Homo sapiens: one gene and its partners. The protein of the gene in region 2 purifies or fractionates together with the protein of the main gene of each other region. This does not show direct contact. Each region holds a gene or a part of one and is shown on either strand. Other genes may lie near its edges. The genes, in order: EPS8L1, TOMM34, WDR12, TARS1 and ZFAND5.

Region 1 (5,905 bases), on a different chromosome or scaffold from region 2:
CCCCAGAAGTCTGGGTCCCGCCCCCTCCCACCCTGCTCCTCCCTCTCTCCCAGCCCCGGCCCGCCCCATCACCATCTCACCCACCTGAGAAGAGCCAGGAAGACAGAAGGAAAAACACAGAAAAAAAGGGGGCGGAGTCAGCATCGGGAGCCCCCGGGACGCACCCCTCCTTGACCCCCTTGCCCTGCCCTGGGGCGGACACTCACCCATTGACAGCGACCTGGGGGGCGCTTTGCTGTAGGAAGTAAGACAGTCGGGTCAGGCGGGGCCAGGCGGACCGGCCGCGCCCCCGGACTTCCCAGCCTCGGCCCTGCTGTGTCGCTTGGGTCACCTGCCGGCGCCTCCGCTCGTGCTGTAGCTGTTTCTCAACTGGGTCCTCCCAGGCGCGGCTCTGCGGGTCAGTGACCGGCGGCTCCCAGCCGCTGAAGAACTCGGGTCTGTATGGGGGTCCCTCCTCCGGGGACAGCTCCAGCCTGCGGCCAGGGACAGGGCCAAGAGCTCAGGGATCCTGATACAGCCCCCAACTTCGTTCCTGCATTAACTTCACTAAGTTTTCCCCTAAAGCTCGCTGTATTCCAACGATTCTAGCCCCGCCACTTTTCACCAAGTCCTGCCGGTAGCTCTAAGCCCAACTCAACAGCAATTTATATTTCTAGACCGGGCACGGTGGCTCACGCCTGTAATCCCAGCATTTTGGGAGGCCAAGATGGGAGGATCGCTTGAGGCCAGGAGTTCCAGACCAGCCTGGGCAAAATATTGAGACCCCATCCATCTCTCTCTCTGGAAAAAAATTGCCTTATCCAGCCTCTAAATCTCACCTGATTCCAAATCAGGTTTTCCGTAAGGTCGGTTTCAGGTTCTGACCCTTTCCCTGCGGAACTGCCAGCCCGCAGTGCACAGACTCTGTCCCATCACCAAAGTTATAGACCAAACCTTCCAGAAGCCCCGCCCCTTCGCGTAGCCCCGCCCCTGCCCCGTAGCCCCTAGCCCCTCTATTCCTTTAAGCCCCCCTTTTCTTTCAATCCGATTGGTCTGGTGGTCTTAAATCTTTCCTTCACGTTAATTCCTGGCCTTTCCTCCAATTGAATCTTGGCATCTGTCCTAAGCCCCGCCCCAACACAACTAAGCCACGCCTCTAACCCCTCCCTACTCTCCTAGTCCTATTTTCCAATCATCATGCCACCCACCTCCCAGCGCCTTATGCTCCTCCAATCACCATGCCCCCTGCCTCCCAGCCCCGCCCCTCACCCGGGGCGGGTCCACGAGTCCCCCAGCGAGGTCCAGAGCTCGTTTTCACGTGGAGTGACGTTGTCCCGCAGCAGCGCCACGGCATCCGATGTCAGATGCGGCCGCCGCACACTGCTCGCGAACTCCGGCCCCCCCGACGTGTTCACAATCTGTCAGGGGAGCAGGAGGGGCAGGCTGTGCCGCCACACCTTCTACAAGTCGAACCCGATTCCTCCCGCTGCAGGGGGGCCCGAGGGCCTGGGGCGGGTCTCACCATCTGCAGAGGCCCGAAAAGGAAGTGCAACAGCTCCGGAGAGGAGGGGTCGGCGATGTTGCCGCGCAGCCGGGCCTGGGGCGTGGGGAGGGAGGTGGTTGGCGTGGGTGCGGGGACGGGACAGGTTCGTCGTGCCCGCGCCCCGGCCCAGGGGCGGGCGCGTCCTCACCAGCAGGCTGAAGGCGTACTTGATCTTCTGCAGCACGTCGGTGTACTCGGCCTCCGAGGGCGGCTTGGCCCGCAGCGTCAGCAAGCCCTCTGAGGGGAGCAGACGGGCGCGGCGATGGGGACGCGGGGCCAGCACCAGGCAGGCAGAGAGAGGTGGACACCCGGTTAAGATGGCGGTGAGGTCAGCCCTGGCAAGTGGCGGGAGGGGAGAGCCTGGGGAGAGCGGGGACATTTGGAAGAGATCGGGAGGGGGTTCAGATCCCACGCCAGGGTGCCCCTTACCCCCAGCCGCCCGGCGCCGGCTCCTGCGGCCGCGTTCCCGGTGCTCCAGCACCCTGGCCGCCTCCGCCGACTTCTGCAGCCTCGATACAAAGCTCTCTACGTCGTCGAACACGTGGTTCAGGATGTCCTAGGGGACAGAGGAGGGGGACGCTCAGGGCTCCCGAGTTCCAAAACCATCCCCGTCGAAGCCCTGAACCTGAGCACCTATACACTTCCCCAGATCAGGCCACGCCCCAAACACCTGGCCACGCCCCACAACCAAGCCCCGCCCCCGACCCAGCCCCTCTTCCATAACGCAGAAGTCTGACCAGAGAACGCCCGTCCCGCAGCCGGCCCCGCCCTTCCACGCCCTAGCCCCGCCTCCAGTCGCCTGGCCCTGCCCCCAGACCCCTTCCTTAGCGGCTCACCACTTCCCGCTCCGCCTGCAGAACCGCCAGGTCAGGACCCCGGGGACCCAGGTCCGGGGAGGCCGAGTCAGCGTTGCTCGAGGTCCCCACCGGCTCAGGCCTCTGCGCCTCCTCTGCCTCGGGAATGGGCTTCGCCTGGGGTCGTCCGCGGCCCGCGCCCCGCTCTACGGTGCTGATCACTGCGCGGACTGACGGGCGGCGCTGCAGGGGCGGGGTCTCAGCGGCGGGCGAGCGGTCGCGCTGCAACTCCTCCTGCGTGGCCCTGCGGAGGGCGACGGGGACACCAAGACTGGGTCCACTGAGGGGTCCAGGGAGGGGGAAATCCAGGGCGCAGAACGAGACACACAGGCTCAAAAGGCTCAAAGGGAGTGAACAAGTTCAACGAGGTAGGGAGAAATCCGATATACGGAGGGATAGCACCTCTCTAGAGTGAAACTGAGGGCCTGGACAGGGAACAGAGAAAAGAAGCAGAGTTCTGGAGAAGGGGTCAGCTCGTCTGGGAGGTACAGACAAGACTCGACTAGGGTGTGCTTGACTCCATGCAAAACTCTTGTTCTGTTCCAGGCTGGTGTTGTAGACTGAGGCACAAGGAGGGGAAACCGGCTTCCCAGAGACCCTGCCAACTTCTTCCCTCTCACCTGAGCGCCGCCGCCCTGCGCTCCCCGCGGCCCGAGCGGTAATTGTGCAGAGCCCCCTGGATGTCCTCTCGGATCAGCTCCGCCTGCCAATCACACCGTCAGGCCACGCCTCCCCACGCCGCACCCACTTCCTACCCGGGCCTCGCCCCTGGCCGATTTTTCAGCTCAGTCCCAGCCCACGTGCGGCTACCGTTCACACCTGTGAACCCACGCACGTCCACGCCCCGAACTCACCCCTCGCCCTACACCTGTCCCTGCCCTAAGCCACGACCCCGCCCATGGAGACCCAGTCCGGGTGGTTCCTCGCCCCCACCTCGTCCTGGCTGCTCCCCCAGATCCTTCTTGGCCATGTTCTGTTCATGTCCTCATCCCACCTTCATGTTCTATCTTGACCCTGGGTCCAATCTCAAACCCCACTGCCTTCCAGAACTTCCTTCCCAGGTCCCCTGCCCTTCCTTGCTCTGATCCCGCCTTAGCCCCAGGCCCCGCCCCACCTAGAGGCCCCACCCATTTCCGCCCCGGCTCCAGGCTCCGCCCAGTTCCAGCTCCACCCCCAGAGCCAGCCCATCTGCTCACCCCGAGGCGCAGGCCCTGGAAGAAGTGCACGTCGGGCTGCGCGCGCTCGGGTTCCTGGCACACGAGCAGCAGCAACGAGCGGCTCCTGCCGGGTGGCATCACCGCGTCACAGCGCACGATGGCGCCCAGTGGGTACGACTCCAGCTCCTCCTGCCGGGTGGGATGGCGGGGTAAACTGAGGCCCCGAAATGATGGTACTACTAAATGGCGACGGGAGTGTGGGCCAGCAGGTCAGGGCAACCTCAGGCGGTTAGGGGGTTAGGGATAACAGCCCTGTTTAATAGATGAGGCTATTAAGGCTCAAGAAGGGGGCTGGGGTCCCTCGCCAGAGTTCCCAGAGGAAGGACGTGCAGGAGCCAAGATTCACACCCAGACCCCCTGAAGTCCCTGCCCCAGACACTCCTCCCACCCACGTGCCCCCCGGCACCTTGGAGGCCGGGTCGAGCAGCGTGACATGGTCGGGAGACACTCGCAGCAGCATCTCCTGTGCCCAGACTCGGCCCTGGCTATCCATGACGGCCAACTTCCTGGAGGCATCCTCCACGGTATGCACGCCATCGTCCTCACCCAGGCAGAACGTCACCAGGTGCTGGTACGGACCATGGAGAAAGCAGTGAGGCCCAAGATGATGCCAGGTGGGCTCAGAATCCCCCAGAATAATCAGACTTTCAGCCTGAGACTAACCACACCTCCTCCAGGAAGCCTTCCTTGATCACCTGTTCCACAAATCAGCTCCTCCTCCCAGTGCCCTTTGTTTCCCTTTCATCAGAGTGACTAGCACCTGAGTCTGGCTTCTCACAGACTGGAGGCTCCTTGCGGGCAGGGAAGGAGTCTGGATTATAGCTCTCTCCTTCTAAATGCCTCCTCGGGTCTCCTGCCATGCCCCCTGCCACCTCCATTAGAGCACCAGGCGCCTCTGTGGATTCCTCTGGACCTTGTCTACCCCTTCCTCATGCAGGGCTGTGTCTTGATTTGCCTCCGTGGTCCCACTGTCCAGCACAACAGCTGGCCTGGAGGAAAGGCTGGCAGATTAAGTGGACCCGAGGCCCCTGGCTTCATATCCATGACTGAGGTGAGGCAACGGAGGTCCATTTTATGGATGGGCAAACTGACTTTCCACATGCTTCCTGCTTGGGGGCCTAGCTGCTTTCAAAAGCCCTATCTCCTGAGGCCACCTTTGCCCCAGAAGATGTCCTGGGGGAACACAGACCCCAGACTCACATTGACTGGGTACTGGGATACATCAGCCATAACAACTGTGGAGTAACGCTTCCTCTGCTCTGCCAGGGGAGAAAGAGAATGAGCCTGGGAGTCCAGGCCCAGCCCCTCCTCCATCAGACCCAGGAGTCCAGGCCCCCAGCCCCTCCTCCCTCAAACCTAGGAGTCCAGCCCCCCAGCCCCTCTTCCCTCTGACCCAGGAGTCCAGGCCCCCAGCCCCTCCTCCCTCAAACCCAGGAGTCCAGGCCCCCAGCCCCTCTTCCCTCTGACCCAGGAGTCCAGCCCCCCAGCCCCTCCTCCCTCTGACCCAGGAGTCCAGACCCCCAGCCCCTCTTCCCTCTGACCCAGGAGTCCAGGCCCCCAGCCCCTCTTCCCTCTGACCCAGGAGTCCAGGCCCCCAGCCCCTCTTCCCTCTGACCCAGGAGTCCAGCCCCCCAGCCCCTCTTCCCTCTGACTCAGGAGTCCAGACCCCCAGCCCCTCTTCCCTCTGACCCAGGAGTCCAGCCCCCCAGCCCCTCTTCCCTCTGACCCAGGAGTCCAGCCCCCCAGCCCCTCTTCCCTCTGACCCAGGAGTCCAGCCCCCCAGCCCCTCTTCCCTCTGACCCAGGAGTCCAGCCCCCCAGCCCCTCTTCCCTCTGACCCAGGAGTCCAGCCCCCCAGCCCCTCTTCCCTCTGACCCAGGAGTCCAGGCCCCCAGCACCTCTTCCCTCTGACTCAGGAGTCCAGGCCCCCAGCCCCTCCTCCCTCAAACCTAGGAGTCCAGCCCCCCAGCCCCTCTTCCCTCTGACCCAGGAGTCCAGACCCCCAGCACCTCTTCCCTCTGACTCAGGAGTCCAGACCCCCAGCCCCTCCTCCTCCAAGACCCTGGATGCCAGGTCCTGTTTCTTTAGACCCAGTTCTATGGGCCTGGGGCTCCCTTGCCCCCCGCTCACCATAGATAGACTTGGCGCTTGGCTTTGGGGCAGCTTCTGGGCTGGTGAAGAAAAGAGGAATGAGAGAGACTGTGGGACTGGGGGCAGATCCTGTGGAAATGCCAAGCAGGGCAGCAAGGGCTTCATGACGAAGGTAATGGGGAGCGATGGAAGGGTTATTATTATTATTATTATTATTATTAT
Region 2 (5,905 bases):
CTGGCACATAGGCATGCAGTGTGAGTTCCCTTCTCTTTCCTCTGGTAGCACTTGGGATGTAGTACTTAGGATGTTTTTGGTTGCAAAAACAGAAAGCTCAACATGGTAAACATAGTATAGGGAATTTATTGGCTCATAAAACTGAAAAATCCGAGAGAATTCAGGCAAGGTTTGCTCCAGCAGCTCAGTATATTAACAGACTAACTCCATTTTTCTGTACTTATCACAGCTTTATTTTCTGTTGTGCGTCAGCTTTGTCTTTGGCAAGCTTCCCTCCTAGTAGCAAAATAGCTATAGCAGTTCCCGGCCTCACATCCATACCCCATGCCTCATGACCCAGAGAAAGAAAGTCTTTCTCTGATAGCTCACTAGGAAAAGATAGGATTTTTTTCCCCCAAAAAACTCTAGCTCACATATTTTCTCAATCATTTTCTCAATCTATTCTGGTCTTCATGGTCACAGGCCATTCCCTGAAGTACACACCATAACCGGCGGATGAGATTTTGTGATTAGGTCACCCTGAGGCACCTGCCCCACCTCCAGAACTAGAGGGTGATGCTTCCCAGGAGCATGTACACTGTGTGAATCCCTGGAGAAGCATGAAGAAGAGAAAGGAGATCCAAGCAGCCAAAAACAGGAGATTCCTCACCTCAACTGTATGAAATGAAGAGGCCATTTGTCAGGCACTAGGAAGCTCTTTTAATGCTCCAGGGGAATGGTCCCAGCCCAGCAAGCTAGGGATTCAGGCTAGAGGTGCAGAAGGGATCAGAGATGGAGCCCTGCCATGTGTAAGTGACCTATAGGTGTTAGGGGAGGACAAGAGTTACTCACCTTCTACAGGAGAATGCCTCTCTGGTCATGGGTAGCATTCACTCTGGTTTGTGGGAGCCTGGTAAGTGTTCCCCACTCTTCTCTAGGATGAAAATGTGCGGTGCTAATGAACCTGATGGCATCAGTGCCATTGATTTCATTCTTTCAATCAGTGCACCTACCATTGATTTCATTCTTTAAATCAGTGCACCTACCATTGATTTCATTCTTTCAGGGTCACTGAGCCATGTGTTCCAAGCCATGTGTATGCTAAGCAGTGTGACACAGAGGACAGTCTTGGCCCTCAGGGAACTCTCCCTCAGTTGAGGGACTGAGACATGTAAACAGTGTCTTAAAACACAAGGAGGAGGAACATGTGCTTTAGAGTCTTAGTGTTTGAGGACTTCAGGATAGAAACTGACTTAAGTGCATGAGGGAGTCGGGGAAAGACTCAGAAGGGGTGGCAATGGAGGTGGAGCCTTGAGCTGGACCTTGAAGAAGGTCATCAGGTGGGAAGGAAGGAGAATCCTTGGCAGAGACAGTGGAGAGAGTTGGAGAATGAAAGTGCATGGGGGGAACAGTAGGAATAAGGATGACTGCAGAGTGGTGTGTTGCAGGGTGCCAGTGAAGCTGAAGCCCTACTTCAAGAGAAACCTGTGTGCATGTGCACAGGGAGATGTACCCACAAATGTTCGTAGAAGACTGTAATAGCAAAAAACAACTGGAGATAACCCAGATCTCCATAAATGGGAGAATGGACAATTCAGCTTTGGTATTGCAGCAATGAAAATGAAGGAGCTGCAGGTCTGTGCATCAACACAGATGAATCTCAGAAATATAACATTAAGGGGAAAAAGAAAAACCAAGTCATAAAAGAATACACAGACTTATTCTTCTGTATGAAGTTCAAAAACAAAGTAAACAGCAAATGATCTGTGGGTACTGTTGTATATAGTTATACTGTTTAAAAAGGTGGGGAAGAAGCACAGAATTGGGGATAATAGTTTCCTCCAGCAGTGGATTGAATTGAGGAAGGTCCCCCAGGACTTCAAAGGTCCTAGTTATGTTCTTTTTCTTAAACCAGGCAATGAATTCAGGGTGTAAACCTATAATCTTACCCTGGTCATAAATATTTAGTATTTTATAAAGATAGTTTTAAAAATTTTTGAAAAGCAGATGATATGGAGCTGAGGCTGGAATAATTAATTGGGGCCAAGCAGTGAAGGGCCTGAACACCAAGTTGAGCAGCTTGGATTTCACCATGTTCCCTCTGCTTCCTCTCCTTGAAGGCTGGAGCAGAGCTGCATGTGTTAGATGAGGGAGGATACTCACAGGCTCAGCCCAAACCAGAAATGAGGAATAGCAGGCTCTTCTCCCCTTTTCTCATAGCCCAGAAGCTATACCTTTTCTTTACCAGATATTTGTTTATTAGTATTTATTTACTTATTGTCCTGCTTTAAGTTTATAGTGTGTTCCGTACTTTCTTACATACTCTCAGATTTGACCCTGAAAATAGCCATCTGTGGAATTAGTATTGCCCTATTTTATTGGTGAGGAAATTGAGGTCCAAAAGTTAGGTAGGTCACACAAGATCTTCCAGCTACCAAGAGGCAGTGCCAAGGCTAGAACCTGGGTTGCTTTTTATCATTTATATATTTTTATGTGCATGCAAAAATGTTTTTATATCAGGATTCCCCAACTTCTTGATGAAAAACTGTTGAATTGCCCAGAAGCTATTAATTGGGGGAAGTCATTAATCAGGAAGGATGATTTACAGCAGGGGAGGAAATCTCTGGGAGAGAGGATTGTAGTCAGTTTGGAAGGGACGATGCTGAAGAGACCTCACTGATCTCAGTTGGGTGCTGCTCCATGGTTTTTTTCCTCTTCTGAATTTGTATCTAGTGCCTTCTGCTGGGGATGTGGAGAAAGCCAGAGTTCTGAAGGAAGAAGGCAATGAGCTTGTAAAGAAGGGAAACCATAAGAAAGCTATTGAGAAGTACAGTGAAAGCCTCTTGTGTAGTAACCTGGAATCTGCCACGTACAGCAACAGGTATCTCCTATACAGCTGCTGGCCTGGGGCATTTCAGGACATTTGTTCCATAGTCTTCTCTTGGACTGCAATGGGCCCTTCATCCCTAGCATTTAGTCAAGTATGTTATGGCTGAAAACATGCATCCACGTTGTGAGCTAGCCATGACCAGTGGCATTCATTCTCTCAAAAGGGTAGAAACTGAGGGATGCCAAATGGTAGCCTGGGCTTTGTTGGCCCCTGTCCCCAGAATTTTCATAAGCATGCAATGTAACTAAAAGCAGTGTGCCTGCTCTGCAAACACAACCCTAACACAAGTCTCTTAGCCTGTCCACCCCACCACGCTACGCTGCTCCCTACCCTTCTCCAAGACCCTCCTGTTAGAAATTCTGGCACCATTTCTGTCTGAGAGTACTGGCCCAGAAGCCAAAATGTGAAGTAACCATTGCCTGGCATGAGAGCAGGAAGGATGGGTACAGTCTAGCCTGAAAGGTTAGACTTGTGGGCCTGTAGAAAGTCCTGCACCAGGAGCTGCCGTCAGTGACCACTGACTGAGAACCTGGGAGCCAGGGTGCGGTCCCTTCACTGTGTAGGAGTGATTGTTCTCCAACAATGCTCGTATAGGTGGTCTTTCTGTTTTAGTGTTTAGAAAATTGAGGCTCAGAGAAGGAAGGGTTTTGCTTTAAACTCAGCCAGCCAGTAAATGTTGGCACAAGAATTGGAATCTGACTTCAACAAGATCTTCCTGTTACTTTTACTCTCAGAAGCTTGAAACATTCAGCAAGAGACCATATCAAAACCAAATGCTTAGTATAAAACATTATAAAATGTTAGAAATCTGTTTATCCTTCCCTACCAGCATACACATATCACTCTCTAGTTCAAAAATCTTGGATCTAATATAGACACATTGTTCCTTATTCCAAACTCTTGAGATAAAATGTGTTTTCCAGCCACGGTGGCTCAATGCCTGTAATCCCAACACTTTGGGAGGCTGAGGCTCCGGGAGGATCACTTGAGGTCAGGAGTTTGAGACCAGCCTGGCCAACACGGCAAAACCCCATCTCTACTAAAAATACAAAAAATCAGCTGGGCGCTGTGGCACATGCCTGTGATCTCAGCTACTCAGGAGGCTGAGGCAGGAGAATCACTTGAACCCAGGAGGCAGAGGTTACAGTGAGCCAAGATTGTGCCACTGCACTCCAGCCTGGGTGACAGAGCGAGACTCTGTCACAAAAAAAAAAGAAGTGTTTTCCATTTTAGTGAGGTAATATGGTCTGAATTATGTAACACCCCAGCAGTGTCTGGGGCAGCTTGCAGAAGTTAATTATTAGTATTTCTGCCAGTGAAACTTGAAAATTCCATGTTCACATGGGGTGGAATAGAGAAACTAAATAGCTTCATGTCAGTTCAGATCAGGTTTTGCTGCCCAATGAGTTGGAAAGAGAACTTGTAGTTTTAAAGCTTATATTTTGGAATTTTGCACCTGTGGTTTTATGTGGTTTTATTGCTGATTGGACCAGAGGGGCCACAATTTGCCAGGCTAATTTGAAAAAGAAGCCTGCAGCCTATTTGTTCCATATTTGTGTGGCATCTTCTAACTCCTCTATCTCTGGACCCTCTTTCACATTGCTTACCTTATGCTGCTGGACACCTCCATTAACTCATTTTTCTGGATCATTACCATATTTGGAGCTGTGTTTTGTCTTGTTTAGATACTGTTCTTCATGCAGGTGTCTGTGCCACACTGTTTTAATTGCTTTTGCTTTATAATATCTTATAGGGCTGGTCTTTTCTTCATTCTTCTTAATCAGAGCATTCCTAGTATTTTCCCATGTTTGTTCTTCTAGCTAAAGCTTCGGATCATTTTGGCAAATTCCAAAAAATGTCTTGTTGGACAGCTTTTGGTTGTGATTGCATTGGATTTATAATTTAATCTAGAGGACTAATGACAAAACAACTTTCAGCCATTGTGGCTAACATTTTATCATGTCCTGGAACGTCTTGGACATAGTCTAATGCTCCACCTCATGTACGCCCATCTGAATGACACAATGCCCAGGCTTTGGCTTACTTTGGCTCCCTTTGTGCAGGTGACATCTGAGTGCATAGCACCTACAACTTGCCAGCCCTGAAACAGCTGTCATAAGAATCTCACTTGTACTCACAACAGTTCTTCAGCTTAGATCATTGTCCTGTGTTACCTAATCAGGCTCAGAAAGATGAATTAGTGACCACAAAGTTAAACAACTAGTACATGGTGGCTGAGATTTAAGCCAGATCTTTGTGACTCCAAAGCTTATTTCCCTTTCACTCACTTGTGTTATTTCCCAACCCCTTTGTAATTAAAACCCTTCTGACTGGATACAGTTACTTCATTTACCAAAAGTCAAGGGGGTTTATTTTATTGCCTGAAGTTATGCATTTTGTTCATCTTAAATATAGTCTTTAGAAGTCTCACATGACCCTATTAATCACATTTCTATTCTGAAGTCACGATACACGGTGGTTCCTCTGCTTCCCAGACACTTGGCTATTTCTTTAAATTGCCAAGCCCATTGGGAGGAAACTTTAATTTCCTTAGAATTCCTCTATGTTTAGAGGTGGCTCATGCCTGTAATCCCAGCACTTTGGGAGGCTGAGGTGGGCAGATTGCTTGAGGTTAGGAGTTTGAGACCAGGCTGGCCAACATGGTGAAACCCCATCTCTACCAAAAAATACAAAAGTTAGCTGGGCATGGTGGCATGCACCTGTAATCCCAGCTACTCGGGAGGCTGAAGTAGGAGAATCGCTTGAACCCAGGAGGCGGAGGTTGCAGTGAGCTGTTATCATGCCACTGCACTCCAGCCTGGGTGACAGAGTGAGACCCTGTCTCCAAAAAAAAAAAGGAATTCTTCTGTGTTCAAAGTTTAAAACGGGCTACTATTCTAAAACTTGGTGATTTACAACAACCATTTTATTTTGCTTGTAATTTGTGGAGTCAGGAATTAGGGAAGGGCAGTTCTCATTTGGGGTCTCTCATGCAGGGTCAGCAAGATGGTAGCTGGGGCTGGAATCCTCTAAAGC
Region 3 (5,905 bases), on a different chromosome or scaffold from region 2:
AGGACTAATAGAATAGATGTATATATGAAAGAGAGATTTTTTGTTTTTTTGGTTTTTTTTGAGACGGAGTCTTGCTCTGTCGCCCAGGCTGGAGTGCAGTGGCACGATCTCGGCTCACTGCAACCTCCACCTCCCGGGTTCAAGCAATTCTCCTGCTTCAGCCTCCCGAGTAGCTGGGATTACAGGCGCGTGCCACCACACCCGGCTGGCTAATTTTTGTAGTTTTAGTAGAGACGGGGTTTCACCATGCTGGTCAGGCTGGTCTTGAACTCTTGGCCTCCCAAAGTACTGGGATTACAGGTGTGAGCCACTGCGCACAGCCGAGAGGGAGTTTATTAAGGAGTATTGACTCACACGATCACAAGATGAAGTCCTACGATAGGCTGTCTGCAAGATGAGGAGCAAGGAGGCCAGTCCGAGTCCCAAAACCTCAAAAGTAGGGAAGCCGGCAGTACAGCCTTCAGTCTATGGCCAAACACCTGAGAATCCCTGGCAAACCACTGGTCCAAGAATCCAAAAGCTGTAGAACTTGGAGTTCAATGTTTGAGGGCAGGAAGCACAGGAGTAAGATAAAGGCCTGAAGACTGATCCAGTCTAGTCCTTCCACATTCCTCTGCCTCCTTTTATCCTAGCCATGCTGGCAGCTGATTAGATGGTACCTACCCAGATAGAGGGTAGGTCTGCCTCTTCCATTCCACTGTCTCAAATGTTCATCTCGTTTGGCATCACCTTCACAGACACACCCAGGAACAATACTTTGCATCCTTCAATCCAATCAAGTTGACACTCAGTGTTAACCATCACAGTGTATTACATTGATTTGTGTATGTTGAACTATTCTTGCATCCCTGGGATAAATCTTACTTGGTCATGATGATCTTCTTAATGTGTTGTTGAATTTGGTTTGCAAGTATTTTGTTGAGGAAAGAATTATTCCTGTAAGAGAAGCTTTGCAATTCCAGTATGTTACCCAAATAGTTGGGTAACATTTTTCTAAACATATAGACCGAACATTATTCCTTCTGTATAGACTGTTACCATATTGCAACTCTGAAAGAAATGAATGTAAGTACAGTATTGGTTCTCAATAGCTGTTAATCCCGATAATTAGGTAAAAGACTGACAAGGAGCATTATGGTGGATAGAATCAGACTGATATAATCCAAGCCCTATGATGGGTCTTAATATCTTAAAAAGAGACACAACCAGAACCTATTTACATCCTGATGGGATGTAACAGGAAATAGACAATACTGCCTGTGAATATTCTTGTCAAAAAAAACCCAAAAAACCCTGAAATCTAACCAGGCATTTACCATTTACCTCTGACTAGTTTATAGGATATTTGTGTGATAAAGAAGCATGTTAAAGGACACCTTGGAGATGGAGTCAACAAAACCCAGAATGTTACAAAACAGATGACCCACTTTCATCAACAAATACATGGCAAGGAGAAAAAGGAGGAGGAACTGTTAAAGATTAAAAGAAACATTAATCAAATATAATGTATGGATTATGGATGCTGATTTTTGAAAGCTCACTGTAAAAGAACATTGACTATTTGATGTTAGAAGGAGTGATTGTTAAATTTTAAAATATTGTGACAAATTTTTGAAGTCCTTATATTTTAGAGATACATACTAAAGTATTTACAGATGAAATGATATAATTTCTGAGATTTGCTTTAAAATAAACCAGCCGGGGAATGGAGGGTGGAATATAGATGATGTCCCATTAGTTGGTGGATGTCAAAATGGGCAATAGTGATGAGATTCATTGTTATTTCTACTTTTGTGTATGTTTGAAATAATAAAAGTTTTCTAAACCAAAATAATTACACCAACAACAGTAAAAAGACATTATACTAACAGAACAAAGTATTTCTGATCTTAAAAATCACAGAGAAACTCAGGCCACACTGGGATAATAGGTACCTGTTTGTTTTGGGAGTTCTCATATACCTCTGCCAATATTACTTTAGACACTAAGAGTGATAATTTTGTTATGTATTTTCCTCAGAGTTCCACAAACATGTGGAGTTTGATTTCCTTATTAAGGGCCAGTTTCTGCGAATGCCCTTGGACAAACACATGGAAATGGAGAACATCTCATCAGTAAGTTCAAATTCTTATCTTCTGTATTTCACTTGAGGCATTATCGGCTATTGTAGGTAAACTCCTTTTAGAATCACACTGAATCTATCTTTAGTAGCAAAGATTCTTTTTAATATATTGGCTATATATGTTGTGTGTGTTATGTATTGTGTGTATATTTTATGTGTGTATTGAATATATATAGTGTGTGTGTATATATATATGTATATTCCTGTATATTCAATTTTGAAGCCCTCTTTTTTTGTGAGAGTGTTTTATTCAAGAAATAAATGAACACATTCTTTATATTTGTGGAAGAACTGGCAAGAAAGGGAATAGCAAATATGTGTGTACAAATACTGGTGCACAAAATAACTGGGCAAATATAAAAACTATGGGTTAAGTTACTGTTATTTTTCCCTTTTATTTTCAAAGTTTCCTTATATTGCTTTTATGATTAAAAATATAACTTATAATTGTTGCTTGTTTTGTGATTTTAAAAATTGTGGTAAAATATACATAACATAAAATTTAGAATTTTAACCATTTTTAAGTATACAATTCAGTGGCATTAAGTGCCTTTGCAGTATTATGCAACCATCACCATTTTCCAGAATTGTTTCCTTATCCTAAACAGAAGACCTGTACCCATTAAACAATGTGCTTTTTTTCTTAATTTTAATGTTTTCTTTTATCTTCTTTTTTTTTTTTTTTTCTGAGACAGAGTCTCCATCTGTTGCCCAGGCTGGAGTGCAATGGCACAGTCTTGGCTCACTGAAACCTCTACCTCCTGGGTACAAATGATTCTTGCGCCTCAGCCTCCAAAGTAGTGGGATTGCAGGCATCTGCCACCACGCCTGGCTAATTTTTGTATCTTCAGTAGAGACAGAGTTTCACCATGTTGGCCAGGCACATCTTGAACTCCTGATCTTAGGTGATCCACCCGTCTCGGCCTCCCAAAGTGCTGGGGTTATGGGTGTGAGCCACTGCACCTGGCCTAAGGCTTTCTTATATTCCTTTCCCCCCCATTTGCAGCATAAGTTGTACAAGGCGATTAATATTTCTTCTTTTTAAAATTTTTGTTAGGAGACAGGGTCTTGCTTTGTTGCCTGGGCTGGACTTGAACTCCTAGGCTGAAGCAGTCCTCCTGCCCCAGCTTTCCTAATGTTAATAGCTGGGACTACAGGTGTGAGTCACCATGCCAAGCTATTATTTCCTAATATCACTCTTAGCTTACAGTTAGGTCAAATAAAGTTCTTGACTTTTTGAATGGCTCCAAATTTGCTGAGTTATAAAGGGGACTAATATGAAGGATATAAAGGAGATATATTAAATTGGGGGTTATCTTCATAATGTAATATTTTAAAACTAGACCACCTGACTTGTTGCTGGTTTCTCTTGTGATTAGGAAGAAGTTGTGGAAATAGAATACGTGGAGAAGTATACTGCACCCCAGCCAGAGCAATGCATGTTCCATGATGACTGGATCAGTTCAATTAAAGGGGCAGAGGAATGGTATTGCCAGATTAATGCCCTTCTCTTTTTTTTGTTTTGTTTTTACCTCCTTCAGTCTTTTTAAATCCATATATACATATTTTTCTGTGATTTAATGTTATTTGTAAATTAATTTTGTGATCTCTGTATCAGTGGCCATGGCAAACAGAAAGATCTTTTCATTCAGTGTCTTCAAGAAGAAACAGGTGGCTGGGTGCAGTGGCTCATGCCTGTAATCCCAGCACTTTGGGAGGCCGAGGAGGGTGGATTACGAGGTTGGGAGATCGAGACCATCCTGGCTAACATGGTGAAACCCTGTCTCTACTAAAAAAGTACAAAAAATTAGCCGGGCGTGGTGGTGGGCGCCTGTAGTCCCCGCTACTTGGGAGGCTGAGGCAGGAGAATGGCGTGAACCTGGGAGGTGGAGCTTGCAGTGAGCTGAGATGGCCCCACTGCACTCAAGCCTGGGCAACAGAATGAGACTCTGTCTCAAAAAAAAAAAAAAAAAAAAAAAAAAAACCACAGGTATTTATTAATAGGTACTCTTTTTCTGTTCTGTTCAATATGTGGTAGTAACAATTATTGTTGCCTTTTTTTTTTTTTTTTTAAACGGGGTCTCTCTCTCTTGCCCAGGCTGGTCGCAAACTCCTGGGCTCAAGCAGTCCTCCTGCCTCAGCCTCCTGAATAGGTGGGATTTCTCTACACCCAGCAATATTTGTCTTCTGAATAAGTCATGTATCTTAGAGCATTTAATTTATTTGGTTCGATTATGTTGCTTTTAAGACCAAGGATATAGTTTGTTTCATAAAGGAAAAAAGTAACTTTTATAGCCATAGATCTCCTGGCCTAATACCTTAAAGATGCATAGCATACTATTTTAGGGCTAGAAGGAGCAGACTGGACTCAGCAAAGAAGGTACAGATATCTTAGGGCAAATCCTCACTGGCCTTACTTGTAGGAAAACAACTCAAGAGTAGATTATGGTAGGAGCTTCTTTCAAAGAATGCCTTCTTGGAGTTATTACATAAAGTTATATTTCTCCTAGTTTTACTTTTAGTTTAAATGGTTTTCACTGGTTAAGTACAAAATACTTCAGGTGGACAGCCAGGCGCGTGGCTCACGCCTGTAATCACAGCACTTTGGGAGCCTAAGGCAGGTGGATCACTTGAGATCAGAAGTTTGAGACCAGCCTGGCCAAAATATTGAAACCTGTCTCTACCAAAAATATAAAAAATTAGCCAGGTATGGCGGTCTGTGCCCATAGTCCCAGTTACTCGGGAGGCTGAGGCAGGAGAATCACTTGAACCCAGGAGGCAGAGGTTGCAGTGAGCTGAGATCGCGCCACTGCCTTCCAGCCTGGGCAACAGAGCAAGACTCCATCTCAAAAAGAAAAAAGAGTACTACAGGTTGGGTATTCCTTATCTGGAAATGTTTGGTACCAGAAGTATTTTGGATGTAGGATTTTTTTTGGGTGGGGGTGGTTTTGGAATATTAACATATACATAGTGAAATATTTTAGGGATGTGATCCAAGTCTAAACATGAAATTCATTTATGTTTCATATACAGCTTATACACCTAGCCTGAAAGTAATTTTATACTATGTATATATATGATATATATTTTTTATATATATATATATATTTTTTTTTTTTTTTTTTTTTGAAACGGAGTCTCGCTCTGTCACCCAGGCTGGTGTGCAGTGGCGCAATCTCGGCTCACTGCAAGCTCTGCCTCCTGGGTTCACGCCATTCTCCTGCCCCAGCCTCCTGAGTAGCTGAGACTACAGGCACCCGCCACCATGCCTGGCTAATTTTTTGTATTTTTAGTAGAGACAGGGTTTCACTGTGTTAGCCAGAATGGTCTCGATCTCCTGACCTCGTGATCCGCCTGCCTCAGCCTCCCAAAGTGCTGGGATTACAGGCGTGAGCCACCACGCCCAGCCATGCCAGGTATTATTTTTAGGAGGTTGAGAAACGTCAAGTGATCTGATCTAGTATGGCTTGAAATCTCAATCTTCATATCAAAAAAGAGTTTAAAAGTATAATCCTCAAAGTTACTTTGTCATTGCCAAAGAAACATTTCAGGGTTTGGAAAAACTGCTTTTTGTGTTTCATAAGATTTTTTTTTCTCATAGGATCTTGACTGGTTCTTATGATAAGACTTCTCGGATCTGGTCCTTGGAAGGAAAGTCAATAATGACAATTGTGGGACATACGGATGTTGTAAAAGATGTGGCCTGGGTGAAAAAAGGTTAGGACAGTTTGCCTACACTTAGAGGAATCCTAGATAGGGATTTGGAAATAAGCCATTTTTGGT
Region 4 (5,905 bases), on a different chromosome or scaffold from region 2:
AGTTTTTTGACCCCCTCCTTGCCCTTTCCATCTGGACCTGCCCTAGGGTTGGCTTCTAAGCCAGGACAGATCCCCTTAAGGCCTCTCAAGTCTGCAGAAAATGCTTTCACTTCTCCAGGCTCACACTGAAAGGAACTGGCATATCAAAAGCCAGCCCTAAATCAACCTGGTTCCTGAGTATTTTGCTTTTACAGGCAGTTAAGCTTGCCTTTCTACTTTATTTTTACTGCTGTGAACTGTGCTTCACTTTTTGCTTTAGTCATTACAGCTGTTTTATTGGAGACTCTTTAGAAAGCTACCAGAAGGAAGAAGCACAAAGGAACAGCCTTTTTAGAAGTAGCACAGTAAGCTGGCTTTTAAGAGCCACTTTTACAAATGCTGCAATTGCTAAATTTATAGTGCCGTCATTTACTTTAGGGTAAGTTTATAGATGATCAAGTGTAGTGTTGCTTAGAACCCTACCTAACCATTTATCTTACGGCTGATCAGTTGATCAGTCTCCCGACCATTATACCCCCACTGTAATTGTGAAGAAAATTGTTGATTGTGAATTTTAAAATTTGCAAGCCAATGGAAAAATGCATATGTTCCCTAATTTCTTTTTTATACTTTCAATACAAACATACGTGCTGTTCCATCACAGCTTGAGAAATGACCTGGAAATAAGACAAAGAGTATAATTAGAAGACTCTTCTGAACAGAGAATTTTAAGTGGGACATGTGATTATTTATGTTTAACGATTGGTCTGGAAAAAAGAGTGTACAGTGAACTGTCCAAGACCTTGGTCTTCCCCTCCAAGGGCAACTTGCAGGTTTTATTCATCTCTGCAATCACAGAGACTGACACAGAGGGTATCTGCTGAATGAATGTTGAAGAGATTTTGACACGAAATTCTAATTGGGACATTGCAAGTGGCTATGATGATAAACTGCAGTTAAGATACAGAGGGTGGTGCAGGTGGGTAGGATTATAATGATGCTTTAGAGTGGATGGAACTGGGTACTGTGCATTAGTCTGAGGGGTTCAGATTATGGTTGTAGAATGACAGGCTCTGTCTGAGCTTTTAGTTAATTCATGGGTTCTTCACCATTGAAGGTTATGGACCGTTGTGATAATTTGATGAAAAGCTCTCAACAACTGAACGACTAAAGAAAGGGAGGGACTGCTGTGGGTGGGAATTACAAAGATATTAGGGCCTGATACGGTGGTAGGAACCAATCACTTGAGACTGAGTGGGAGAATCACTGGAGCCCAGGAGTTTGGGGCCAAAATGCGCTGTGACTGTGCCTGTGAATAGTCACTGCGCTCCAGCCAGCCTAGGCAACATAGTGAAACCCTGTCGTTAAAGAATGGAAAGAAGGAGGGAGGGAAGGAATTACTGGGCAGACAATTAATCTTTTTCATTTGATATTATTTTCTATTATCTCCAGTCAATTTTGTTTTGTTTTGTTTTGTTTGAGACAAGGTCTCACTCTGTTGCCCAGGTTGGAGTGCAGTGGCCCAATCTTGGCTCACTGCAACCTCCACCTCCCAGGTTCAAGCAATTCTTATGCCTCAGCCCCACAAGTAGCTGGGACTACAGGTGTGCGCCACCACACCTGGCTAATTTTTGTATTTTTAGTAGAGATAGGATTTTGCCATGTTGGCCAGGGTGGTATCGAACTCCTGGCCTCAAGTGATCCATCTGCCTTGGCCTCCCTAAGTGCTGGGATTACAGGAATGAACCACCATGCCCTGCCCCAGTCAGTTTCTTAAGGATTAGATATTCCCTTGTACTCCTTTCAAATTGTGGTATGTTGATATATATGGAGACATATGTATGGAGACGTTGGTAGCATTATCAACATTGAATAAATGTTAAAATCTGTATTGCAGTAAGTCATTTTATATCTGATAGATTGAAATTCATTTGAAGATAGAAAGTCATGGCAAAATTAAGCAATCTCCTCTTCACTTTTGTATGAAGTGTTAATGTTCATGTAATTTGAAGATGATGAATGCTGTAGATGTTAGTTTGACTGTTTTGTTACCACAGATTCACTGCCTTTTTGAAATGTTCCATAGATTATAGAGTGACAGTAGAAGAAGTCAGCTCTCTGATTGCTGTCTCTTTTTCTTTCTTTGCCAAACCTCTAGAAACCTAAGTGGGTGTTTTATATAGAATATTTTTGTTAATTTTATCTGCTATAGAAAGTAGTAGTGTGTTGTTTTATATAGTTGCTAATTACATACTCCAAGCTGATCATGGCATCTTTGAATTCAGTAAATACTTTCCTTGAAGGGGAGACCTTAAGTCAAAGAAATTTGTGATTGGTTGTGAGTGGACATATAGGCTGACCCGCTGCACAGACCATCACCTGGACATGAATGAAACAAAATAGAAAAGCCAGTTTATTGTTTTTATTTCCAGTATTGTTTATAGCTCTATTTGTAAAATAATTTAGTTAGAAAAGATCCTAAGAAGACATCTTAAAAGAGAAAAGACCACTTGCTGTAAATAGTAGCAAAATGGTAATTGTCGATTCAGCATAAGAATAGGGCATTTAATTCCTTCTTTTACCTTCATTTAGAACCAAATTGAGGTAATGCCGGGTGATTTTGGCAGTGTTTATTTACCACATTGAATCAATAGTCCTGGGTTTCTGTATTGTTTTTATTATTTCTTTCCCATTTCTAAATAGGAAAGCAATATTTACTGATCATTTATTTCCTGATTTGTTTGTTGTCTTGCAGTTGAATCCTTGGCCTGAATATATTTACACACGTCTTGAGATGTATAATATACTAAAAGCAGAACATGATTCCATTCTGGCAGAAAAGGCAGAAAAAGATAGCAAGCCAATTAAAGTCACTTTGCCTGATGGTAAACAGGTTGATGCGGAATCTTGGAAAACTACACCATATCAAATTGCCTGTGGAATTAGGTATAAGCTACACCCATCATGACCTTCCATAGTTTGTGGTCTAACTAAACTTCCTTTTATTATCTTGCCATGTTTTATTCTTATAATATTTTTATGTTACCATTCAGTGTTTTTAATCTGTTTAATTTTGCCTACTTGAGATTTTTTAAAAATCAAAATGATACAGAGCTTTGTAGTCAAAATTCAAAGTTAATTTCTGAAAGAGTTTACTTTGGTCTTATCTTTTGGGGCATTGTATATTTTTAGTCTTACTATGATTATAAATGTTACAAAACCGACTAGACAGTGTTTACCTATTTCGACTTAAATGTCTTGGTTTTGAAGTTAAAAATGAAGCTACATAATCTCACATGGAAAGGTTAAGAAACTTCATATAACACATGAAAAAAATGTACTATTTTTATAAATTCAATGAAAGACTATTCCTAGTCTTAAAACTTTTATTGGGGTGGGAAGAAGTTATTTCAATTAACTGAGAATTAGATGCATATTTTGTAATAGGGGAGAGGCTTTCTTAATCTGATATGATTGGGATCAATAATTGGTCAGTTTATCAAAATAAGAGTTGGTAAAACATATATATGTGTATATATATACGCGTATATATACACGTGTATATATATATATCTTAAACTGGGTATTGGGAAACTCTAGTCATAATCTGTTTGTGTATGTCCTGAAAGCGAAAAATAAAAATGATTCTTTTTTTCTTTCTTTTTTTTTTTTTTTTTTTTTTTTTGAGACAGAGTCTTGCTCTGTTGCCCAGGAGGCTAGAGTGCAGTGGCGCGATCTTGGCTCACTGCAAGCTCCACCTCCCAGGTTCACGCCATTCTCCTGCCTCAGCCTCCCGAGTAGCTGGGACTACAGGTGCCCGCCACCACGCCCGGCTAATTTTTTGTATTTTTAGTAGAGACGGGGTTTCACCGTGCTAGCCAGGATGGTCTCGATCTCCTGACCTTGTGATCCGTCCGCCTCGGCCTCCCAAAGTGCTGGGATTACAGGCGTGACCCACCGCGCCCAGCCAAAAATGATTCTTAAATTTTTAAATAGTTGGAAAAAATAAAACAACTAAGAATATACAACAGAGACCATGTTTGGCCTGCAAAGTGTAAAATATTTGTGTGGCCTTTTACAGAAAAAGCTTGCCAATCTTGGTCTTAAACACTTCAACTTAAAATATGTGAATATGTATGTATTCACTAACTTTATATACATACATAAAACAGTGAATATATATATGTATGGCAAGGTTTGGGGGATAGCGAGTGCTAATTAGAGTTCTTACATTATCTTAACACATACGAGAAGTAGTCTGAGCACAGAATCCTTGCAGATTTTCATGTAGTTGTAGAGTTACACCTAACTTGACAGTGTTTTTGTGTGTGTGACTTGGATTTATCAAGCCTTCTCAAACATTCAACTTGGTTTTCATAGAATCCATAATTCCCTTATTGTGTTATTTTATAATTATATATTTTTGAAGTTTATTTATAAGTGTTATGTATTGAATTGAACCATTTGGAATCACCATATGAATTGTCATGTGGTTGATTATCATCAATTTTGTATTGTTGAACCAAACACGTAAAAGAACAAGCACAAAAACAGTTTGGGGAACCAACGTGGCTGATTCTTGGTAAGCGTATTATACAACTAGTAGAAGCAGAACCAGTTAGGCCTATGAGCCATGAGCATCTACTGTACCACAGACATTAGTTAGTACTTTTTACAAAGTGAATGGAGTGTTTCCATTCATTTGACAAGTGCTTCTACCTACAAGTTCTTCTACCTTACTCCAAAGGAAGTAAAAAGTTGTAATACCATGCAAGTTTCTATGTGAGAGCATAGAGAACTGGATAGACCTTTACGTATCAGTTCAACCTTTCATTTTAGAGATAATTTTGAAGGTCAGGTTGATTAATAGATTCCTCTGTTGTCACACAATGAGATTGTAGCCGTGTCATTAAAATTTAGGCTTCTGTTAGTTTGGGAACTTTTTCCTCTACCTTCTACAATGTTGATCTAGATTACATTGTAATTTATCAAGTCTTCAGTTGAAAAATATTCTTCAAGAACTATAAAATTCTAAGTTGAATTACATAGCTGGGCGTGTTGGCTCACAGCTGTAATCCCAGCACTTTGAGAGGCCAAGGCAGGCAGATCACCTGAGGTCAGGAGTTCAAGACCAGCCTGGCCAACATGGCGAAACCCTGTCTCTACTAAAAATACAAAAATTAGCCAGTCATGGTGGCGCACACCTGTAGTCCCAACTACTTGGAGGCTGAGGTGGGAGGATAGCTTGAACTCGGGAGGTGGAGGTTGCAGTGAGCCAAGATTGAGCCACTGCACTCCAGCCTTGGTGACAGAGCGAGAGTCCGTCTCCAGGGAAAAAAATAAAAGGTTGAATTACATAAAACATTGATGGGCTTTAGCTCTGGAGTTAAGTCACTGATCTGCACTGAGAATACTTTATGAAATTTTTACAAAAGTCCAGAATAACTTTTTGTTCTGTGAAAAATTATAACATTGATAACAGGCTATTTAAAGATTCACATAATTAGTGGTGAATATGAAAGGGAAGGACAAAAAAGACATGTTCCATTTGCGTCAAAAGGTTTTTCTTTGAAGTTTTGTTATAAATCTTTTTTTTTTTTTTTTGAGACGGAGGAGTCTCGCTCTGTCGCCCAGGCTGGAGTGCATTGGCGCCATCTTGGCTCACTGCAAGCTCCGCTTCCTGGGTTGACGCCATTCTCCTGCCTCGGCCTCCTGAGTAGCTGGGATTACAGGCGCCCGCCACCACGCCTGCCTAATTTTTGTATTTTTAGTAGAGACGGGGTTTCACTGTGTTAGCCAGGATGGTCTTGATCTCCTGACCTCGTGATCCACCCGCCTCGGCCTCCCAAAGTGCTGGGATTACAGGCGTGAGCCACTGCGCCTGGCCGTTTTGTTACAAATCTTAAAGATTATTTTACCCTTCTTT
Region 5 (5,905 bases), on a different chromosome or scaffold from region 2:
CTAACATTTTTAAGTCAAAAAAGGAAGTATTTAAGAGAAACAGGAAGATGCCTGATAAAAATGTTTATAAGTATTCCTTGAAAATACAAGCTTTAAACAGAATCTTCCATTTTAACATCAGAACTTGATTCAAATCTGAGAAATTCCTGCCAATCACCATACTACTTGCTTCTCTAATTTTGTAAAATGATCGCTTCACTCAAGAAATTCCTTTAAAACACTGGTAACAGCCAGTACTAAAAACAAAATCCTAATTCTGTTTTAAAGAGCTGGGAGATGTTAATCATATGCTCAGTTTTTCCACGTTATAATTTCCTAAATGCAAACTTTTCAATCAGGGCAGTTCAAATTCATTACATCACAGTAAATAACAGTAGCCAACTTTGATTTTATGCTTATAGGAAAAAAAATCCTGTAGATATAAAAACAGCAAATTTTGACAAATAAAACTCAAACCATTCATCCCTAAATCAACGTCAGATCCAAAAATTCCAAAACAATCATTTTACCATTTTCACAGGTGCACTAAACATCATAGGAAGACTTGAAAGATTTTTTTAAACCTTGGTTTTAAAAACAGATCGGCAAACAGTCTTTAGAAACTACTCGAGAAGTATTGATTTTAAACTATTAAGGATTCCACAGGCAGAACAAGAATCTTATCTAAAATGGGCATCCACTATCGACAGAGATAGCATCTACAAACAGTCCCACCGTTTCTCCACCTAAAAAGGCTTTAAGTTTCAGTGTACACATGGCATCAATAAAATTTCTCACAATGAACAAAAAATACATTACTGTACTAAAGCCCACACTGCCACTAGTTCTTTAACACAAAAATAACAAAATTTATATCTACTTACATATAATTCAACTACACCTGAAACACTATAAACTCAGGTTTTAATATTAATCCAAATGTAACAATAGCAAATTTATGTATGCAATGCTGAAATTACTGCCCAAATATGCCAGCACCAATGCTATTAGCATATAGACAAGCTCCTACAACAAGCTGATTGATTTAATGGCAATTTTCTCTAAAACTCTGCCCAAATTTATAATTCAATTGCATTAGCAATGAATCTACTGGGAGAAATAGCCTAATATTAGACTAAACGAACAATATTCTACCTACTGCTACTGTGACAACATTAATGTTTATCCTGATGTCATGAGGATAAAGAATAATCTAGGGGAATAGTTGTATGGGGTAGAGGGAGGGTGTCAGCCATTTCTTTGGCCACATCTGAAAAATGAACTACGGCTCCTGAGACAAGGGAAGAAGGGGGAATAAGAAAATGACACAGAAAAGGCAAATAGCAGTGAATCACAGAATGCCTACTAAGTAATAATAAATGCAGACTAGCTCTAACCCAAGACTATTCTTCCAAGGTCAGAGTAATTTTGTATTTAAAAACCAAAACCAAAAACAAAAACCCAAACAAAGGCATCACGGGCAAACTAATGTGGTCAGTTTAAGGATGGAGCTCATTTCAAAATGCCAAATATAGATTCACCTGCCAAACTTGAGAATTTGGCCTTAACTTTGTAAGATTAATACAATAAACAAACTTGACTGCTGTTAGCAAAAGCCAGCCTCCAAAGCAGACTGTATAACCACTGACAGTATTTTTTCACAACAGAAGTTTTATATTGCATTTAATCAGCACTCTGCCAAAAAAGAACAAATTGATAAAATAAGCTACGTGCACTATATAAAGCACAGAAATCTTTTTGTTCTAGGGCCTAGTACAGGTAATTCAAGTCAGTCTTCTTCCACCATCAGGGCACTTCTGGTTGTGCTATATAAGCAAAGTTTCCAAAGTCACCATATCTCATGAAAACCAAAATGCCTTTCCACACTGAGTTTCAAACTCCCACAAAATATGATAGGAATATTGTACTTCAAATAAGTTCTAGTGTTCAAATATGTTGTTCTACTTAAAAGTTTTCCACAACATTGACAATATCAAAACTAAAGTTACTGCTTTTGGTTATAAAATTATTCCTTATACCCTTGAAATTTAACTTCATCAAGTTTTTAACACATCCAATCTCCAGATTACAGACTTTGCCCATTATGCACAAGGGTAGTGCAGGGGATGAGCAGAGAAGAAACTGAGAATAAATATGACTATTTTACACTTCAAGATACTCATACTCAAGATACTTTTAAAGATAGTAGTTCTTTGCTTGGCCTATATTTTATGGCTCTCCCTCCTCTTTGGTCCTTCAATGGGAAGGAAAGAATCCCCCCACCAGCCATTTCTTGCACTATCAAATTCAGAACTGAACAAGTATTAAATGAAAAACATACCTGGCTCTGACACCTCTGTTTTCGGGGTAGTTATTTTGTCCTCTCTTGAAATGCTCATTTCTGTCATTTGCTGAGTTACAGGCAAGGCAGCCACAGGCACATTTCTATTTGAGTTCAAGCAAACAATTTTTAAAGGTGTTAAGGGTACTTCTTGAGACAATGAATAAGTTGTCAGTTCAACTTTAAATTATAGAATATTTCCAAAATGAGCAAATGGAGCTAGATAATCTAAAGTTTAAAAAAAAATTGGATGCCCAGCACAAATGGTTGAGAAAAAAGTTTGATAAATGGCTCATGAACTCGAGGCTGCATTTTGTATAGGTTACCATATTTTACAACCAGCTAGGGATTTTTAGCTGTGCCTGTAACTTGTTTAAGGGCAAAAGGGCAGCTCTGCCAAAACACCTTGTCTGGCCCAATAATATTCTACAGTCTCACTCGACAATCCCTAAACCTCAATTACAAAGAAATAAAAAAGCACAGCATTTCCAACACAGTATCCTTGAGGGGGTTAGGGAGTCAGGTGTAAGTAACACACATCTTTACTCAATGACTTAAGAGTCATGTATTAAAAGACACTGAAATCCTCGATTGCAAAGCCAAGGGTATCTATTAACTTATTATTGGACCAGTACAGACATCTTGATTTCTTCTTTGTAATATCATAAAAACTCTGAAACGTTCAATCTTACCTTGATTTTTCAGATGTGCTGCCAGCAGCACCTTCACAGTTGTTTAAGCTAGTGTCTGCTCTCTGTACAGATGCAGAATCTGAGGTAGGACTGTTGGAACCACTAGCTGTTCCTATTTAAAAAAAGGATTTGTAAGGAACCAATGAACACTACAAAAACTCACTTAGTATCAAGACGTAGTAATAAATACTTGCATTTAATTAGGTTAGTGATATAAGCATTCACTGTGCTGTAATCCTATACTTGAGTATCCAAACAAAAAATATTAAAAAGTCAATCCAATGAACACAAGTGTGAAACAAAATAACCCCAAAAAAGAAAACTGAAAAGCTATAAGATGCTTGTAGATAGTCATTCATTCCTGATCAGTCATGTCAAGCACTTGGGCTGTTGCTTGAATTTCAAGCTCTTATCAGGTGTTCTCTCCATGTGCTTTCAGCATTCTCAGCCCCAATTCTTGGTTCTGTATTTCTGTCCACCAGTTCTTTCAAATGTGTTTTTCCTTGGAAATAACTTACCCATTGGGCTCATTCTGCCACTATTTTGCTGCCTCTGAAGATGTTCTTTGTAGCAAACTGAACACATTCCATTTGTCCTAGGATTTCCATAAAAGCCACATCCTGTGCTACACAGCATGGGCCCCGGGGTCTGGTTAGTCTCCTGAGCCATATTTTTCTGCTATAGATGAAACGAAATTTCAGAAATTAGTGTTATCACCAAAATATAGTCTAATATAATCATCGGTATACCGTTGTAATTGCTACGCAAGTTTTAACAAAAGCCCAAATTCCGTTAATCATTAAAAAGGGTGGGCAGAGATAATTATCAATATTTTGTTGCCTTTATAAAAGCAAACTGTTTTAGGACCAAAAAAAAACCCAAAAAGAAATTTTATCAATTATTAGGGTATTTTTACCTATCACTATTCTTGGTTTCAATTTATGAAAAGGTCTGTTAGCTCTCAGGGTTATGTTTTAATCAATTTGGGAAACTGGTATCTTTAACTTTTCACTCTGCTGCACTACAGGCAGACCATTTCAAATGTTTTTACTTAATTGGCTAATCACAATTATCACTGAGTCTTGATATTTATAGGTAGTTCTTTAAACTGGATGAATAAAGTTTTCTTAAAACACCTGTACATATCTGGGCTTCATCAGTAATTTGACAAATCTGCTGAGGCAGAGCATCTGTACTTTTTAATGCTGAAACATCTTCATATAAGGCTGAAAAGAGAACTGGTAGCCCTTCCTGCTACCCTGGCACCAACAAGTAAATCTCTAAGAATTTAGGGTCAGCTGGTTTACGAAACTCCTTTTACGTTCTCCATTTGAAGTTTCAGAGTATGTCAAAGCCAGTGCCTAGGAACCTGCAATACACAAATTATGAACCAGATTTCTCAGCCAAAGGCACTATTAATTTTAACAAGTGCTTGTCTTCCTCATACCAGAAAATAATAAAACCGTTCCAAGCTCAAATTCAATGTATTAAAGTCAATATATACACATAACCTTTAGTAATGGTTAATATTCAATGCTGGGTTACCAGAAAAAGCTTTACATAGCAAGCATTTGTTTCCAAGGAAGATTTGCTTTTCTAAAAGTCTTGTTAAAACGCTGTGCTAAATTATTAATAAGTTTTCCTCTGGATGAGAAAATACATATTAAAGAAAAATTATTTTAAAATAAAGTTGTGGAGGGTTTTCATGTCATCTTAAACATGTATAAGCATATGTACAAAAAGCATATTTGAGAGCATTTGCTTAAAGGAAAATTCGTGTGCTGTAACTTGTGGTCAGTCATTTTTTCCAACTACATACTAGAATACACTTTTTAGTGAGTTATTAAAAAACGATGTTTTAACAAGTATTAACTACCAAAATTAGAAGATGGGAGAAGGGGACTAACCAATTTTGACCTGGCCAGACCCCTGGTAATTATTCCCCAAAACATTTTATCTTCCCTTTTGTAAGTAAAAGTGCACCATACAAATATTAAGACAATCTAGCTTGTGTGGAGTGACCAAGATCCACAACTTACTTTTAACAACAGTATTAATTTAGTTGACACTGTCTCTTTAAATATTAACTGGAATTTAGCTGACTCATTTTGGAGCAGGGTAGTGTAAACATTTCAACATCACTTAGGAAGTTTATTAATAAACACTTTCAGCTGGGTTTTTAAATGAGCATAATAGGAGCAAAAAATGCTTTCAAATGATAAATATGTATGTATTTGCATGCCCACCACGCACAAAATATGTGTGAATGTTTGCCCTATGCATGAAAGTTGGGTCACTCCTTAAAACCAGTTTAAGTATGCTAGCTTACATTTTCTACACTGAGGCCCAGTCTCATGTGACATTGGCTTTAAAGTTTAAGGCCAAGCGATCAACCTACCTAAGTAATTTTAGTTAATCTGATTCTTAAAATATTTGTTTTAGATAAAATGGAGGATACTCCATCTAAAGATTTCACACACTCAGAGATAACAAAGTATTCCAACTTTGCTTCAGAGAACATGTCTACCTTCATTTCATTATAAATAACTTTCAACTGCGAGACACACAAGAGGTACCAGGACATGAGTCTTCTACATGGGTTCCCATCTTTTAGATTTTTTTCCCCTAGAAAGCCAGCTTTTAAATGCCATCACATGTGCACAGCTTGCTTTAATATTTCTCAGAAGCTCAGATCACATGGGAGGGCGCTTCAGCCTGTCACAAGGCTGCAATGTGACAAGCTGAGCTGGATGGAGGCTCTCACATAAAGCCTAGTCAACAGGGGCCTCTGAAATCAGCTTCTATTTATATCTCAAAGCCTGCCAACTCCTACACAACCCCAAGAACTAAGGATGCAGCGTTCATATATCTAACATAAGAAAACAAAAAAAGG

The links.
Region 1: the proteins of TOMM34 (region 2) and EPS8L1 fractionate together in Homo sapiens (co-fractionation; one large-scale study listed by BioGRID). This does not show direct contact.
Region 3: the proteins of TOMM34 (region 2) and WDR12 fractionate together in Homo sapiens (co-fractionation; one large-scale study listed by BioGRID). This does not show direct contact.
Region 4: the proteins of TOMM34 (region 2) and TARS1 fractionate together in Homo sapiens (co-fractionation; one large-scale study listed by BioGRID). This does not show direct contact.
Region 5: the proteins of TOMM34 (region 2) and ZFAND5 fractionate together in Homo sapiens (co-fractionation; one large-scale study listed by BioGRID). This does not show direct contact.

The regions. Positions count from the first base shown.
Region 1 is NC_000019.10:55,077,946-55,083,850, reverse strand, and holds part of EPS8L1 (epidermal growth factor receptor kinase substrate 8-like protein 1), read right to left. Parts: intron 5,764-5,905; coding exon 5,723-5,763; intron 4,853-5,722; coding exon 4,794-4,852; intron 4,162-4,793; coding exon 4,000-4,161; intron 3,723-3,999; coding exon 3,573-3,722; intron 3,471-3,572; exon of another isoform or gene 3,358-3,470; coding exon of another isoform or gene 3,310-3,357; intron 3,080-3,309; coding exon 2,997-3,079; intron 2,621-2,996; coding exon 2,359-2,620; intron 2,079-2,358; coding exon 1,952-2,078; intron 1,760-1,951; coding exon 1,671-1,759; intron 1,577-1,670; coding exon 1,502-1,576; intron 1,398-1,501; coding exon 1,249-1,397; intron 474-1,248; coding exon 332-473; coding exon of another isoform or gene 236-331; coding exon 207-235; intron 85-206; coding exon of another isoform or gene 69-84; exon of another isoform or gene 1-68. UniProt on the Homo sapiens protein: Stimulates guanine exchange activity of SOS1. May play a role in membrane ruffling and remodeling of the actin cytoskeleton.
Region 2 is NC_000020.11:44,945,685-44,951,589, reverse strand, and holds part of TOMM34 (mitochondrial import receptor subunit TOM34), read left to right. Parts: intron 1-2,712; coding exon 2,713-2,860; intron 2,861-5,905. UniProt on the Homo sapiens protein: Plays a role in the import of cytosolically synthesized preproteins into mitochondria. Binds the mature portion of precursor proteins. Interacts with cellular components, and possesses weak ATPase activity.
Region 3 is NC_000002.12:202,897,234-202,903,138, reverse strand, and holds part of WDR12 (ribosome biogenesis protein WDR12), read left to right. Parts: intron 1-2,019; coding exon 2,020-2,114; intron 2,115-3,501; coding exon 3,502-3,608; intron 3,609-5,723; coding exon 5,724-5,839; intron 5,840-5,905.
Region 4 is NC_000005.10:33,445,807-33,451,711, forward strand, and holds part of TARS1 (threonine--tRNA ligase 1, cytoplasmic), read left to right. Parts: intron 1-837; exon of another isoform or gene 838-958; intron 959-2,734; coding exon 2,735-2,925; intron 2,926-5,905. UniProt on the Homo sapiens protein: Catalyzes the attachment of threonine to tRNA(Thr) in a two-step reaction: threonine is first activated by ATP to form Thr-AMP and then transferred to the acceptor end of tRNA(Thr).
Region 5 is NC_000009.12:72,357,098-72,363,002, forward strand, and holds part of ZFAND5 (AN1-type zinc finger protein 5), read right to left. Parts: intron 3,691-5,905; 5' UTR 3,682-3,690; coding exon 3,531-3,681; intron 3,125-3,530; coding exon 3,013-3,124; intron 2,425-3,012; coding exon 2,321-2,424; intron 1-2,320. UniProt on the Homo sapiens protein: Involved in protein degradation via the ubiquitin-proteasome system. May act by anchoring ubiquitinated proteins to the proteasome. Plays a role in ubiquitin-mediated protein degradation during muscle atrophy.